2 linked regions of the Homo sapiens genome follow. The protein of the gene in region 1 interacts with the protein of each later gene in a pairwise test. Each region holds a gene or a part of one and is shown on either strand. Other genes may lie near its edges.

Region 1 (10,123 bases):
AGGTGAGCAGCAAGCAGTCATTTAAATGAGCAAATGGAAGGGTACTCAGGAAATATAGAGCAGATATCAAAAATGCCAAGCCAAAAAGGGCTAAATTTAATAAAAACACATCAATCAAGAGTGAATGTGGAAGAAAAGCATTGGGCAAGAGTTGGGAAAGGAGATAGCAGAAGAGTGCACAGAAGGCTACCTGTTATTGATTTTGCCTCATGTGAAATACCTCTCTCTGGAGACTTACTGTTAAGGAACTGGTAGCAAACCCACATATCTGCAAAAGCTAAGTAGTAGGAGAACTGAGCCAGATATAAGTTAAGGGTGAGAACTATGAAAATCTGGATACTTTATGTCCCATCTACAGAGTGCAAAACCTACTAAGCTCTAGTTAATTGTTAACATACAAAAGTGAGGTCCACGTTTCAGGATTTTTCATATAATTCAAGAGAAACCAGAAATCCAAATAGCTTTCTCAAATCTTCCAAATTTCCAAATTTGATAAATACCTAAATAAATTGTAACAACTCAATGCACCAATAAAACCATGTATTTAGATCAGATTCAACCCATAGCTGTCAACTTGTGTTTTTTACTTAATTAAATTAACATGGACCCTAACAGCAATAGTAGATTAAAAAGAAAATGAAGGTACAAGATTAGGGCCAGTGAATGCAGTCTTGTTTCTAGTAAGTTTAATTATAAAGGAAATCTGTGGCCTAAAGACAACAGGGCCTTTATGCAACCAACAGACCCAAATCCTTCTACCAATGTCCAATATTCTCCCCATATTGTGCTTTCTAAAGGTGTCATAAAGTTTATATACAAAATATTAGACATGAAATGTTTCCATATTTCTTATTTTGAGATATCAGTGCCCAGATTACTTTAAATCCTAATGTTGTAAGCGTTTCGGGAGAATCTGAATAGCATACCTTTGTACACTCCTCACCCTGCCATGCATAGCAAGATGCCAGGTGAAGGTAAGTCAGAGAAAACTATCTTCAGGTTCTTCTTAAGGTAAAACAGAACGCTTAGATTTTGATATAAACCCTTAATGCAGAGATTGCAAATTAGGTGTTTGGAACCTGAATCCACTCCAACAGCTGAATCCAATCCAACAGCTTTTTATCATGAACAACTGCATATAGAAAAGTACATGAAATAAAGAGGGTTACCTCCGATAATTTAGCTCAAAGAGAACACCCTTGTAAACACATCCGGGTCAAGAAATAGTGCCAGGTCTCAGAAGCCTCCCCTTTAGTCTTCTCAGAATCACTACTCTTTTCTTCCCTTACAAAGGCAACCTACCTCTTGACATTTATGGTAACTGCATTCTTGCTTTTCTTTATTGTTTTGCTAACATCTCCAAATACTTTGGTATAGTTTGCCTCTTAACTAACTAAATATCAATGAAATTATGTAATAGAACTGCACATTGTGTATTTTTTAGTGGCTAGCTTCTTTTCTTGAGTTTTATTGTTGTGTTTTTAATATTCATATTTATTAATTTTATCCTGAAGGTACACATGGTGTTGGATCAGAAACAGATGATTTACTTAAGAGCAAATAATGACCATGCGGTCCTCTGGATCCCAATTCTTACCCTTGGCACAACACAGTGAAAGCCAGGTCAGATGTCCTAGGCGTACAAACTTTGAAGTCTGTATCACAGATGAGAAACAAGAGAAAAAAATAATTTAGTGTGTTTACATACAGAAGCAAGAGAAAACTATCTTTTCCACCCCTCCCCAAAAGATAGAAAAAAAAAATCTTTGCTCCTTGGATGCAATAATTTTGGGTTCTCTAAATGTTTCAAATATAAATACATTTCTTCAAAGCCAAATGCAGTGAGTAGGTCTAAATTACCTAGTCTATTACTACGGGAAACAAATGTTCCCAATAATTTTTTTTTTCTCTGACTCATTAAGGGTTTAAAATACATTGAATTTTGAATAACAAATTGTGATATCTGACTTTCATTAATGTCTAAATTCACTTAAGACAAAACTCAGGTAGAACAGTTAGGGGATACTGCCCCTTTTGGGAAAGGCACTTGCTCTTAACTTCGGTAATCTTCCCCATCCCTATTGTCTGTATTCAGCCACTTTATTTAAGTAACATGCCTACTTGGCCACTGTAAGCATTCTTATTAAATGGAAACCTTTCTAATTTAATGCTTTTTTTTGTTCCTAGAATCTTGTTCATTAACAAGATCTTCATTCTCTAAATTATGGTCACCTTCATTCTTAGCACCAGTATGGGGTATAGGACCATATTCCTCATGCTATCCCTATTCAATGACTGATCCTCCCTCCAGCCTATTCCAAAAATGTCTTTCTTACTTCTCTAGGACCCAGCCTCTCATAATAATAACTCCACTAATAATCCCTTAATAGTCCACTAATCAGCCCTTATTATTATTACTGAAGAAAAAGAAACTGGAACACATCCTCAGTAATTATTACAAGAGGCTGGTTGTTAAAAGTCCCAGCACTACCCTTGATTTACATGGTAAATTTACTTCTCAGAATTTTTCTTATTTTTCAACTAGTTAACTTAGTGTAGTAACGATTGCTCCTCTCACATGAAACGGAGTATAAGTAAACAGGAAAATGTGAGACATTAAAATTAGAGTAAGACCAAAATCATTATGTAGATTTCTAGATAACATTTTACAACTGTGAATTGTTTTATCAGCATATATTGAGGAACTACTGTTGCCTATGTGTCGCACTATTTCATGCCCACATATAGCTTCAAAGAAATAGAAAGAATATGTTGGTTCTCAAGGAGCTTAAATTTTATCTGGAGAGATCACATAGAAAGCACTATAAAATATACATGAAATACTTTTCTATATCTAAAATAACAGCATAAAAGAAAGCATATTATGCTACTAGAAAGCCAGTTAGAAAGGTAACGATAAGTTGAGGACGTTGAACAAGAAAGGCTTTTGAAAAAGGTTCTTGGGTCAATTTTCAGGAAAGTTTTAGACATAGACTTATGAGAGAGGGGGAAAGTATTCCAGCAAGTGGCAATTTTTGCAGAGCTTTTATTTTCAAGTGCTCAATTGGTTCATCTCTATTTTTTGTCAGCAGACTTTTAAAGGGGATTTTGTGGTGTTGGTTGGAATTGATATATTTTTAATGCTCAAGAATATGTAGACAGTCAAGTATTATTATAGGTAATCATCTCGAGTCTTCAGTTCAGTCTTGACATCTTCCCTCTCAACAGAAATACTGCACTTTCTGCAGGAGGTAAGGTGTTCAGCATGTAGATGCTGACCTTAAGGAGTTTATGATTGATTACCTTAGAGATTTAGGCACCTAAGTGAGAAGTTAAACCACATGCAGTGGCTACCTAGCCATTCCAGAAATGTCGTAAAGCAGTGGATGATAAATATCAAAAACACCAGTACTGACAAGTCCCAGCAAAGTTCACAGGAGGTGTAATCCTTGGAAGAAAAAGGCTTCAGGGAAAAAAAAAAAGTAACTTAAAATCAGTTCAGCCTGGGAATCACAGAGGTCCTCTAATCCAACTAGATGAATCCCTTCTATGAAATCACTAATAAATGGCTCTCCTTTTTTTTTTTAATCCTCACCAGTACCAGAGAATTTGCTTTCATGAGACATCAATTTAAAAGTTTTAGAAATAATGTCCTTCCTTATACAAAGTCTCAAATCAGCCTCCTTCTTAAATTTAATAGTGCTATCCAGAGCTTCTCAGATCAGTGCTTTGGCATCCTCCAGCACTCCAGTGTGTCACAGGTGTGCTGACTTATTTATTTCCTTAGCCCTCCAAGCTGTCCTGCAGAGACTGAAGTACCCACAGCCCCAGAACTATGGCCATGAGAAACCTCCTGTGTTTATCACATTGCCATAAATAGTATCACCTCTTATGTGTACTCTGCTGTAAAAAAGATTGTGAAGCATTGCTCAGTATAATGTGTTGGCAAAGAGATCAAGTCTCTGGAATCACACAGACCCAAGTTAGAACCTTAGCTCTGCCCGATATTAGTTTTCAGGCCTTGGAAAAGAAACTACATCTTTTCAAGCCTCAATTTCTACATTGCAAAATGGGTGCAATAATACTGCCTCCCTTGTGAAGTTGGTGTAAAAATTAAAGATGATAACATAATAGCACTAACAAAAAAGTATTATTGTTATTTGTTCTGCTTTTACCCTTTTAAATATACTATAGAATTCTTCTTCTATTTTTAGAAACTTCAGAATATTTGAAGCTAGTTTATTGTTTCCTCTCAGTATTCTCCTATGGCTAAATAGCCTAAGTTCCTAAGTTTTTCCTCGTCAACATAAATTCAAGTTCCTTCTACATCTTAGTTTCTCTCTTTATTTCTTTTTGCATATGTAGTACTAAGAACTGGATGCATCCCTGTAGATTTGGCTTGACAAACTAGTCCTTGAAGTGTGGATGGAATAGGGCAGTGGAGGAAAGATATTCATGCTGGAGAACCGTGTAGTAAGCAAAGGAGAAGTCATAATACATCTGTCATGTTTATCAACAAATGGGCCTCACTGGCTACAAATATAATCATATGGGGGAAAAAGAATTTTAAAGAGGGAGCATTGTGAACTCCTGTAATCATGTGACTATAGATTCTATCCAATGTAATGAAATACCAACATAATTGTCATTAAAGGAGATAGATCTCTCTTTTGAAAGCAAGCAACCACAGTATTTATGTGAGCTACAAGCACAATGTCATAATACATACTATAATCCCTAATCCCTTTTTTCTTTTTTTCTTTTTTTTTTTTTTGAGACGGAGTCTTGCTTTGTCGCCAGGCTGGAGTGGTGCAGTGGCACGATCTCTGCTCACTGCAACCTCCGCCTCCGGCTTCAAGCGATTCCCCTGCCTCAGCCTCCTGAGTAGCTGGGAGTACAGGCACGCGCCACCACGCCCGGCTAATTTTTTCTATTTTAGTAGAGACGGGGTTTCACCATGTTGGCCAGGATGGTCTCGATTTTCTGACCTCGTGATCTGCCCGCCTCGGCCTCCCAAATTGCTGGCATTACTGGCGTGAGCCATCGTGCCCAGCCCATCCATACTATAATCCTTTTTTGCTCCCCTAGAATTGTCCCAACAGGATGCTGGAAAACTGGAGATTATCTGCAAGCTACACATACCCTGGGCTTTCAGTGGCTGTTGGCTATTGCAGTCCACTCTGGTTGAAAGAGGCTGGTGACACAGTTACCTTGTCCTATCCTAAGAGTCACAACTCAGAAGATTCAACCTTCAGATTTCCTTTATTCCTGAGCCCTTTTATTCTGGCCTTCTGGTCTTTCTTCCATTCATTCCATATAGCATAACGCTTAGAATCTGTTGGTGTTCATCCCCCCCCCCCCACCTCTGCTAAGTATTAGTTGTGTGACATTGGGCAAATTATTCTACTTTGTAACTCAGTTTTGCCTTCTGTTAAAATGAGGATTTTTTTTTACAGTACTTTAACAATAAATTGTGACCATTAAATGAGATAATGTATCTATAGTGCTTAGAAGAGAGCCTGGCAATAATAAGCGCTATTTATGTTAACTGTTATTTTGAGTCATTATTATTCATACATTCAACGAATACCACTGTGCTAAATACAGGGGATGTGTTGGTACATCGGACAATCTCTTACCCCTTATGGTCATATTTCTTCTGATTTTGTGAGACACGCAATGACTTTCGAATCTGACTCCTGGATGCAATTTCAGAAGCTGCTGTTGGTAACTGTGGATGAGGCACTTACCCTCTCTGAGCCTGTTTCCACATCTGTAAAATGAGGATTAATAAAATCTACTTGGAAGATTTGTTTTGACTATTAAAAAGACAAAATATGCAAATTATCTGGCACATTTGAAGTCGAATATACTTTCCTTTTCACAGTCTTGTGGCCACACCTGAGGCTAGGGAACTCCACTCTAGGCTTAGAAAACAGTGCTGTCTTCTTAAGTGCTGGGGAGGAGTAAGAGGGTATGGCGGGAACTCATCTGCAGGAAGGGTAAAACCCAGAAGGCGTGGGAGGAGACAGAGACAGGAGGGATGCAGGGACCGCCCCTGGCCTACAACTCCCGGGATGCTCCGGGAGCGCCCCGCCCCGCCCCACCCCGCCCGCCGTGGCGGGCGCTGCCCACCCGGCGGAGCCGAGCGGCGTGCAGAGGCTACAAGTGCCGTAGCTGGTGATTGGGGGACTTTCTCCGGGAACCGTGCCGGGAGAGCGCGCGGTGCTGGAGCCGCACCGGGTGGCCGAAGCAGAAGGTGAGTGGCGGGGAGTGGGATGGGGTGGAGGCTTTGAATGCAAGGGTGAGAGCCCTGGAGCCTAGCAGAGCTGGAGCGCATATCCCCGCTCTCTCTCCTTCGTCTCCGAGTACTAGGCGGACACATCCGTACCTCGAATGCCTCAGTGGGCGCAGAGTTCACCAGAAATGGATAGCCGGATTCCTCGGCGCCTGCTGGGGGCACCGCTGCCAGGTGCTTGGGGCTCGCTCTCCCGGCTTTGCTCGCACAGGGCGCATCCAGAGGTCGCCTCCCCGAGATCAGCCTTGCCTGTGTCAGTTTAAAGCAAATATTAATGCTTTTAATTGATGACAGATGGACGAGGGAAAGTGCGTGTCCCCTCGCTTTAAGGTGCAATGTCGTTAACTGGGCTTTTAAGCAGATCAGAGGAAAAAGAGGGAGAGGACGGAAGAAAAGAGTCTTTAGCTGGTCCCCTGGGATTATCCATTCTCCACTGAGAATGGAAACCCCGGATTAGGGAGCTGCAAAGGAAATCGACTGTGCTGCTAGCATACCTCCGGTAGAACAAGCGAACAAGCGGGAGTAGCTTTTCTTTAAAGAGAGGTAGAGGCGGCCGTAGGGAATTAAGTGGGGATTTCTCTCTTCTTTTGTTATAAACTGAAAGTCTCAAAGAACCCTGCTGATTTTATCCAAGGTAGGCTAGTGTGATGAGTTAATGGTACCAAAGGTTAATCAGAGCCCCTAATGCCTGAGAAAACTGGAAGAAGAGTTATCGGTAATTGATGAAGCCTGTTACCATCACTTCATTCATTGAGGGATCCTTTAGTGGGGGTTTGTTCTAGTTTAGTAGTGATTCTTTTGCCCTGTTGTTTTTTGCTGTTTTCACTGTAGAGAAACTCCGATAACAGGAGAAAAACGTTTTCTGTTTTGCTTTTTTTGTTTTGTTTTAAACAAACTCTTAGGTGTAGCAGAAAACATGTCAATTCCCTCTCCCATATTTTGAGTTGCCAGGTTGACCTTAGGTGACCCTTGCCTGTGTTTCTGTTACCAGCTTTGGAGCTGTGGATTTTGAATTATAAGAAGCCTCAAGCCGTTGGGTTAAATCAATTATCACCCTGGATTTGGAAGCAAAATAAAAGGAGCCTTTGGTTAAAATCTCTAATGATAGTGGAAAGTGAATTTTTATTCCTTAGAAACATGGCAGAGGCAGAGAAAAGCCGATGGTTTTCTGCTCAAACCAAAGTTCTCTCCCAGAAATGCCCCTTGCTGCAGTCGGGGGTGAGGAGTGACATGTTTATAAAATTACAGAGGTAACCTTGGAAATAGCTTCTCACCTATTTGTCTCCACAGAACTCTTACTCTGTGGGTTTATAGTTTGTCTTTTATTATCAGTTCACTTCTAGATTGGGTTTGTAAAACTATCCAGATGGTCAATTTCTTGTGCATTGTGTGATAGCAAAGCATGCAGAGAGGGAGGAACACAGACCCAGGGAACGGGAGTAGCAGATCCTGCAGCTGGAGCAGGCAGGTGTGTGTGTGGAGGAGTGGGTTGGCCCATTGTATTTTGCAGGGATTGCCGTAAGGTCTGTTGCCTGTATGCTTTGGGGTCCAGAACATGCTTCCCCCATGGAGCAGTGAGGGAATAGGGCTAAGTGGAAGCACAGTGAATAAGCAGCATATGGTCTTGTAAATACAGGGCTGTGTCACTAGGGTCATTGGATGTATGAGGTGTAAGCTTAGCAGAGGTGGCTGATTAAGCTGGCCTTTTTCATCTACTTCAGAGCTATGGAATCAAAATGCTGAGTTCCTGCCCAGCTGATAGGGGTGTATAGTCATTCACTGATGGTGATGCTCCAAAGCTAATCTGTATTAGAATTTGCTCTGAACTAGGGAGAGTGTAAACACTTACAATCTTACTGAATTAACAAGTCTATGCTTCCCCAAGTCCTCCAGAAAATCGGCAGCTCTGCTAAAAAGGGCTCTTGCCTTTCTCATTTGTCTTTTTACAGGAAACTTGCCTTCTCGTTTGAGGGATCCTTTTGCAGGAATGCGCGAGTCCTTGAATAAATTTGGCTTGGTGACGGCAGTATTCTTTCTCAGTAGACACTGCCACTTCCTCCACGCACCTTTCTACCCTGACTTAAGTTTCTCAGTGTTAATCACTATGACAAGTGAGAGCATTTGTCCCTTCCACACTTTCCTGCCACTAGGTATCCCCTCCCTTCTTTTGCCTGTTTGAGGTGGAAAAGGGGCTAAACAGGTGCAGCTGTGAAGGAAATGGGGACCCCAGGAGCAACACTCCTGGAAGTACAACCTTAGCTTCTGTTGGGTTCTTATCTAACTCTGTTGCTATTGGCAGACTTTCCGGAAGCTGCTGGGGGATGTCTGACTAGCTCTCATGGAGCTCCACTACCTTGCTAAGAAGAGCAACCAGGCAGACCTCTGTGATGCCAGGGACTGGAGTTCAAGAGGGCTGCCTGGTGACCAGGCAGATACAGCAGCCACAAGAGCTGCTCTCTGCTGTCAGAAACAGTGTGCATCCACCCCAAGAGCAACCGAGATGGAAGGGTCTAAACTTAGTTCTTCTCCAGCATCCCCCTCCTCCTCTCTGCAAAACAGTACTCTTCAGCCAGATGCCTTTCCACCAGGACTTCTCCACTCAGGGAACAACCAAATAACAGCGGAACGGAAAGTCTGTAACTGCTGCAGCCAGGAATTAGAAACTTCTTTTACCTATGTGGACAAAAACATCAACTTGGAGCAGCGGAACCGGAGCTCGCCATCAGCAAAAGGGCATAATCACCCTGGGGAGCTTGGCTGGGAAAATCCAAATGAGTGGTCCCAAGAGGCTGCCATATCTTTGATATCTGAAGAGGAGGATGATACAAGTTCAGAAGCCACGTCTTCAGGGAAGTCTATAGACTATGGTTTCATCAGCGCCATCTTGTTCTTGGTCACTGGGATCCTGCTCGTGATCATCTCTTACATCGTCCCACGGGAAGTGACTGTGGACCCCAACACTGTGGCAGCCCGGGAGATGGAGCGCCTGGAGAAGGAGAGTGCGAGGCTGGGGGCTCACCTGGACCGCTGTGTGATTGCGGGGCTCTGCCTCCTCACGCTGGGGGGCGTCATCCTGTCCTGCTTGTTAATGATGTCCATGTGGAAGGGGGAGCTCTATCGTCGAAACAGATTTGCCTCTTCCAAAGAGTCTGCAAAACTCTATGGTTCTTTCAACTTCAGGATGAAAACCAGCACGAATGAAAACACTCTGGAACTGTCCTTGGTAGAGGAAGATGCGCTTGCTGTACAGAGTTAATTCTGGTTGTGAATATCTTGAGAGTCTGCCTTGGCATTTTATAATATGAAAAAAGTTAATTTATAAAAATTCACAGTGCAATTTATTTGCCTGGCAAGAAAAGTTTATTTCACAAACCAACAGCCAGTAAGTGTTTTTGTTCTCTATGTGTCTTCTATTTAGAAGAAAAGCCATGTAAGATGTATAAGAAACCACAACCAGCCACACCTATCCTTCTGAAGAGCTGAAGGCTAATTAATCTGTAATGGCCAAGAACTTCTACTTCGATAGAAAAATATTTCTAATGACCCAGTCTACAAATTATTTCTTTTACACAAATATATGATGTTATTCTTTGGACACTAGGTGGTCCTACACACAGTAGGATCAATTGCTAATCTACTTTGTGAAAAAGAACTAAGCACTAATCAATAATAAGGCTTACATCTAATTCTCAAAGGTGCTTATCCATTTTCTTGCTAAATTATCCTTCTTGTAATTTGGCTAAACACTAAAACATGGAATTTTTAGTTTGAATATTTTGAAGTTTGAGGATGTTGGGCTTTCCTTATTGTAAAAAATGTTATGTT
Region 2 (6,220 bases), on another chromosome or scaffold:
CAGAATTGTTGTTGTTCTGGGAGATATGATTAGGTTATTTTCTAGTCTGCCATCGTGGTGACGTCACCCCTCAATATTTTTAATTACCATCAAAATCAATCAGTTTATAGCTGATCTTTCCTCTGTCTCCAGATTTGTATTTTCAACTGTTTAATTGACGTCTCTACTTTGATGTTCTCTAGTTATCTCAAACTCAACTTATCCTAATAGAATTGATCATTTTTTCCAATTCTGTTATGTCTTATATGCTTTATATCACTGTAGGTTTTATCTAATCCAGAAACTAGGGGATTATTTTAGATTCCTTCACACTTCATGTTTAATCAGCCAGTCAGGCTAAAACTTACCACTTTTCACTGCTTCTCTGAATCACTACAATAATTATCCATTTTTCCCTCCCACAATCTAGTTGCTTTAATCAAATTTATACTTTCTAATGCATTTTCCCATATTTCATACTTTTTTCAATGTAAATCCAAGCCTATAATTTTCCTGTTGAACTACTTGCCAATGGCCTCTTACTGTCTGCAAGATTTAGTTCAATACTTTAGTATTAACTCTTTGATGATTTGACTTCTTTATTATCTGGCCTCCCCCGATCTCTCCAGCTTTCATTCTTGACTTCCTCCTCCCTGTCATTAAATTTTAATATATTTATTTTAGCTGTGATCTCTCCCACATTTCTAATAACCTAAAGTCTTCTATTCAAAATGTCTTCCTACCTTTCTGTTTGGTAAACTACTAATCCCCTGCTCAGGGGTCTTTCATAAAGCTTTATTACTCTTATTTCACATCTGAAGGATTATTTCTTCTGTCTTATTTCTACTTTTTTATACTCTGTTTATATGTCATACATAGTCTTAACTTGGTAGCTGTTTGTTTCCTCCCCTAAAATAAGTCTCCTTGTCATCAGGTACCTTATTAATTGTTGATACTCCAGAGCTTAAGATATTATTCATTGGCATACAGTAGACAATCTGAAAAAAAATGAGATAAGTGCTGAAATTCTTAGAATCAAGTAACCTTAGTTTGCAGTGTTAGATAACAATTAGTGAAACATCTTTCTGAAGTAATATTCCATATTAGAAGAGAGGGTGAATTGAATTCAGAACCGATTTCTAGAAAATTCTCCTTATTGTGGACAGTCTGTCTGCTTTGAAAAGCAGTTGAACAGGTGATCCAAACAATGATAAGAAGAAAGAAGCAAGGGGAAAGAAAGATAAGAAAGATAGCAGATATGTTCAGGGCAGAAAGGAACTTTAAATAAGGAGAAGAGAAGTCAAAGAACAATGAAGGAAATATGAATTAGAGGCCTTTTGATTCATACTTTGATAGAAGCTAGTTAAAGTAGAAGAACTCAGACTGTAAAATGTGCTTTCTGCTTGTATGGACATAAGTATTTAAAGTTTTCCTGTGAATTATACGACATCATGGCCCAAGTCTTTATAGCCTTCACTCTAGAGATAATAATGAATCTTTTTTACAGTCTCTTACAAAAGCTTTATTATGGAGAGTTGACAGCTATTCAGCGTACCTAGATAACACATTCATCCTGTAATAATCTCATATTTAAATAGGGAAAAACTTTCCTTGCAGCCTAGAAAAATATAAGCAGAGACATTTTTGAATGAGGAGAAAAATTCACCTTGTTTGTATTTTATTTTGCACAAAATCTGTAGGCTTCGTAACTGCTTTGTTATACAGAGATATCATTAGGACCCACACCAGGCATCAGCAACAGCAAAATTCTCATATTTCTAGGGTTTTTAAGGAGTGCTCTCAGCTTCCTCAGTAACAGATGTAAGATCATTTTGTCTTCGAAACTGGAAAAAAAGTAACCTCTTACAAATCATATCATGTTTCTTAATATTATACAACTAATAAATAGATCTTTTTCTTAAAAAATACAGGTAATACTGATATTTATAGAGTGAAATCTTAAAGTATCCTATTTCTGTCCCATTCCTATTTCAACCTTATTTCTTTCTTCCTTTCTTTCTCTTTCTCTTTCTTTCTTTCTTCCCTTCCTCCCTTCCTCCCTTTCTTCTTTCTTTCTCTTTCTTTCTTTCCTTTTTCTTTCTTTCTTTCTCTTTTTCTTTCTCCTTCCTTCCTTCCTTTCTTTCTTTCCTTCCTCCCTTCCTCCCTTTCTTCCCTTTCTTCTTTCTTTCTCTCTCTCTCTTTTTCCTTCCTACATTCCTTCCTTCCTTGGGTTTTTTTTTTTTTTCAAGGTCTTGTTCTGTTTTCAAGGTCATGTCGCCCAGGCTGGAGTGCAGTGGTGCGATCTCGGCTCACTGCAACCACCTCTCTTTCAGGTTCAGACTCAAGAGATTCTCATGCCCCAGCCACCCGAGTAGTTAGGATTACAGGCCTGTGCCACCATGCCTGGCTAATTTTTTTGTATTTTTAGTAGAGACGGGGTTTCACCATGTTGACCAAGCTGATCTTGAACTCCTGGCCTCAAGTGATCCTCCTGCTTCAGACTCCCAAAGTGTTATGATTACAGGTGTGAGCCACCATGCCCAGCCTTCAACCTACTTTCTTAATTTCTGTTGGATCACTTGTATCTTTTGGTGTACCTTCAAACTTTTATAATAAAAATAACCATAGTCTTCTTGAACATAAATCTTAATAGATGCCAGCACCCTAGCCTCTCATGACATTTCTCAACCATTACCTATTCCTTCCCTTCAAGGTAATGGTCATTTTGACTTTTAGATAAGGTCAATTTTTTTTCTAGTTTCATGAACTAAGCTTCATCCCTAAACACTATAGGTTAGCTTTAGTTTTACCTGGTTTCAAACTTCATATGAATGGATTTTTTTACAAGTATGCATTCTTTTGAGTTTTTATACTCAACATTTTATTTGTAAGATCCATCCATGATGTTAAGTGCAGGTATAGTTGCTTTTAATCACCATGTCAAATTTGAATGAAGTAATACACCTCAACTTATTCATCACTCACCCACCTGTGTTGTTTCCACTTTGGGACTACTATGAATAATACTGCTCTCTATATATTCCTGGAAGTTTATCTTAATGCATAAGCGCAAACATTTCTGTTGGTTATATACCAAAGACTTAAATTACTGATCATAGGGTATGCACATTTTAATTTTTAGTAGGTAATGCCCAAAAGGTTTTAAAAATTGTTGCAATAACTTATATTTCAACTAGGAGTTTGAGAGATATTTCTTTTATCTACAATCTTTGCTATCAGTTGGCATTGTCAATAGTTTGAAATTCAGTCATTCCAGTAGGTACTTTAAAATATCTCTGTCATTTTAATGTTATTATTACAATGAATAGATTTATATCTGACATTTTATTATTTGTTTTATACACGTCTCATGTGTTTTCTTTTCCTTTCCTTTTTTTTTTTTTTTGTGAGATAGGGTTTTACTCTGTCACCCACACTGGGGTACGGTGGCCTGAATATGGCTCATTGCAGCCTTGACCTCCTGGGTTCCAAGTGATCCTCCCACCTCAGCTGCCTAAGTAGCTGGGACCACAGGCATGTGGCACTATGCATAGCTAGTGTTTTTATTTTTACTTTTTTGTAGAGATGAGGTCTCGTCATGTTGCCCAGGCTGGTCTTGAACTCCTGGGCTCATATGGTCTTCCCGAGTTGGCCTCCCAAAATGCTGGGAATATGGGTGTTAACCAACCAAGCCTGGCCATTGTGTTCTTTCTTTATTTTTTAAAAATTAAACATACTTTGTGTATGTTAATTCCCTTGTTTTTAAGCTATTATATTTTTAGCTTGCTTAATCACTAAATAAGCACCCTAATTTATCACAGTCTACTTCAGATGAATGCTAATTCAATTCCAGTAAAATACAGCAACTTTATTCCCATATAACTCATTCCCTTTCCTTTTCTTTGTGCTATTATTGTCATCTATTCTATCTATATATATTATGTAACTACCAATATGGTGTTATAATTACTGCTTTTATAATCTTATCTTTTAAAATTTAAGAGAAAAATTGAGAAACTGTCTATTGAAGAAGGGTTGGCAAGCTATGATACATGGACCAAATCTAGCCCACTCCCGTTTTTGCAAATAAAGTTTTGCTGGAACAAGCCATATCCATTCCTTTATGTATTGTCTATGAATACTTTCATGCTAAAAGGTGGAGCTGAGTAGTTATGACAGATGGAATTAATGTTACTAATAACACGACCTTAAATTAAGGTAATCATCCTGGATTACCTGGGTGAGCCCAATGCAATTAATGCTACTGTCTTTTAAATCAGTTAACAGAAGAAAACACAAAAGATGTATTTATACTGATTTTCATAACCACCTACATAATTACTTTTACTGGCACTTTTTTTATTTATTCATGTGCATTTGAGTTTCATCTGATGTCACTTCAGTCTAAAGAACTTCCTTTAGTGTTTCTCATGAGGAATTTCTGCTAGCAACACATTATTCATCTGTGTATGTCTGTATTTCACCTTCATTTTTGAGGGATAGTTTTAAAGGATAAAGAATTCCTGCCTGACTGTTTTTCCCCCTGCACTTTAATATCCCATTCCACTACCTTCAGGCCTCCATTGTTTTGGATGAGAACCCAGCTGTTTATATTATTGTGGTTCCCTTATATATGAAGAGTCTTGTTTTTATTTTTTTTTGCTGCTTTCAAGATTTTCTTTTTTATCAGTTTGACATGGAGGTGTCTAGGAGGATCTCTTTGTGTTTATTTTACTTGAAGATCCTTGAGCTTTTTGGATGTATTGAATGTTTTCCATGAAATTAGGGGAATTTGGGAGCCATTATTTCTTTAATTTTTTTTCTGGTACTCCCCATTTTTATGGGACTCCCATTATACATGTGATGGTATCTCAAAGGATTTTGAGGTTCTGTACAGTTTTCTTCATTTTCTTTTTTTCCTGTTCTTCGGACTGGGCAATATCTTTTTTGCTCTCTTTATGTCTGTTTATTTTGTTTTTTGTCAGCTCACCTCTGTTCTTGAGTTCCTCTAGTGGTTTTTCATTTCAGTTCTTGTATTTTTAAACTCTAGAACCTCCATTGGGTTTTTCATAATTTCTGTCTCTTTTATTGACTTTTATTTGATGAATCATTGTTGCCATCTTATAATTCTTCAAACATATTTACTTTACTAAATTTTTTTTTTTTTTTTTTTGAAACAACACTCATTTATTAACTCATAGTTCTGCAAGTCAGTATTCTGGGTAGCCTCAGCTGGTTTTCTGCTTAGGGTCTCCCAAGACTGAAATCAAGTTGTTGGCTGTCCTGGGCTATTATCTGGAGGGCCAGGAGAAGAATCCCCTTCTAAGATCATTCAGGTTGTTTGCAGAACTCAGTTCCTTGCAGTTGTAGAACTGATGGCTCCATTTCTTTGCTGGTTTTTGACAGGCAGCTGCTCTCAGCTCCTAGAGGCTTCTTTCTGGTCCTTGCATGTGGCCCCCTCCACCTTCAAGGCCAGCAATGGAGATGCATTCAACCCTTATCATGATTCAAATCTCTCTGACTTCCCTTTCTGCCATCAGCCAGATAAAACTTTCTCCTTTTAAAGAGCTTAGGGGCTTAGATTAGGCCTACCCAGATAATTTCCTTTTTGCTGTGTCATGTAACATAGTGATAGGAGTAACCCCAGGAAGTGAAAGTCATAGGGATTATCTTAAAATTCTGCCTCTCATAGGATAGATGGGACACCAGGCTGGCAACTTACCTTCAAATAATTCAGGGAAAAAAATTTCTGTACTGTCCCTGCAATTTTTTTTTTTATTTTTATTTCTTAAAATTTTATTTTTAATTGACATAATCATTGCAGATATATTTATGGGGTACAATGTGATGTTTTGATATGTTTACAGGGTGGAATGATTAAATCAGGCTAATTAACAAATTCATAACCTCATATACTTACTACTTTTCTTTGTGATGAAAACATTTAAAATCAACTCTTTTGGTAGTTTTGGAATATCCAGTGCATGATTAGTTATTATAGTCCCCAGTCTACGTAATTGATCCCTAAAGCTTACTCCTCCTGTCTAACGAAAACTGTATGGCCTTTGATCAACACCTTTTTGCCTCATCTATGCCCCATCGGCCCCCAGCCTCTGGTATTCATCATTCTACCTTCTGCTTCTATGAGTTCAACTTTGTTTTTTTTTTTCGTTTTTTTTTTTTTTATTATACTTTAAGTTTTAGGGTACATGTGCACATTGTGCAGGTTAGTTACATATGT

The links. The genes of interacting proteins can lie anywhere in the genome.
Region 2: the proteins of TMEM74 (region 1) and MS4A13 interact in binary tests that used the Homo sapiens proteins (3 or more experiments, as listed by UniProt).

The regions. Positions count from the first base shown.
Region 1 is NC_000008.11:108,783,612-108,793,734, reverse strand, and holds the start of TMEM74 (transmembrane protein 74), read left to right. Parts: upstream 1-6,140; 5' UTR 6,141-6,259; intron 6,260-8,597; 5' UTR 8,598-8,636; coding exon 8,637-9,554; 3' UTR 9,555-10,123. UniProt on the Homo sapiens protein: Plays an essential role in autophagy. TMEM74-induced autophagy may involve PI3K signal transduction.
Region 2 is NC_000011.10:60,538,122-60,544,341, reverse strand, and holds the end of MS4A13 (membrane-spanning 4-domains subfamily A member 13), read right to left. Parts: intron 1,824-6,220; coding exon 1,767-1,823; 3' UTR 1,621-1,766; downstream 1-1,620. UniProt on the Homo sapiens protein: May be involved in signal transduction as a component of a multimeric receptor complex.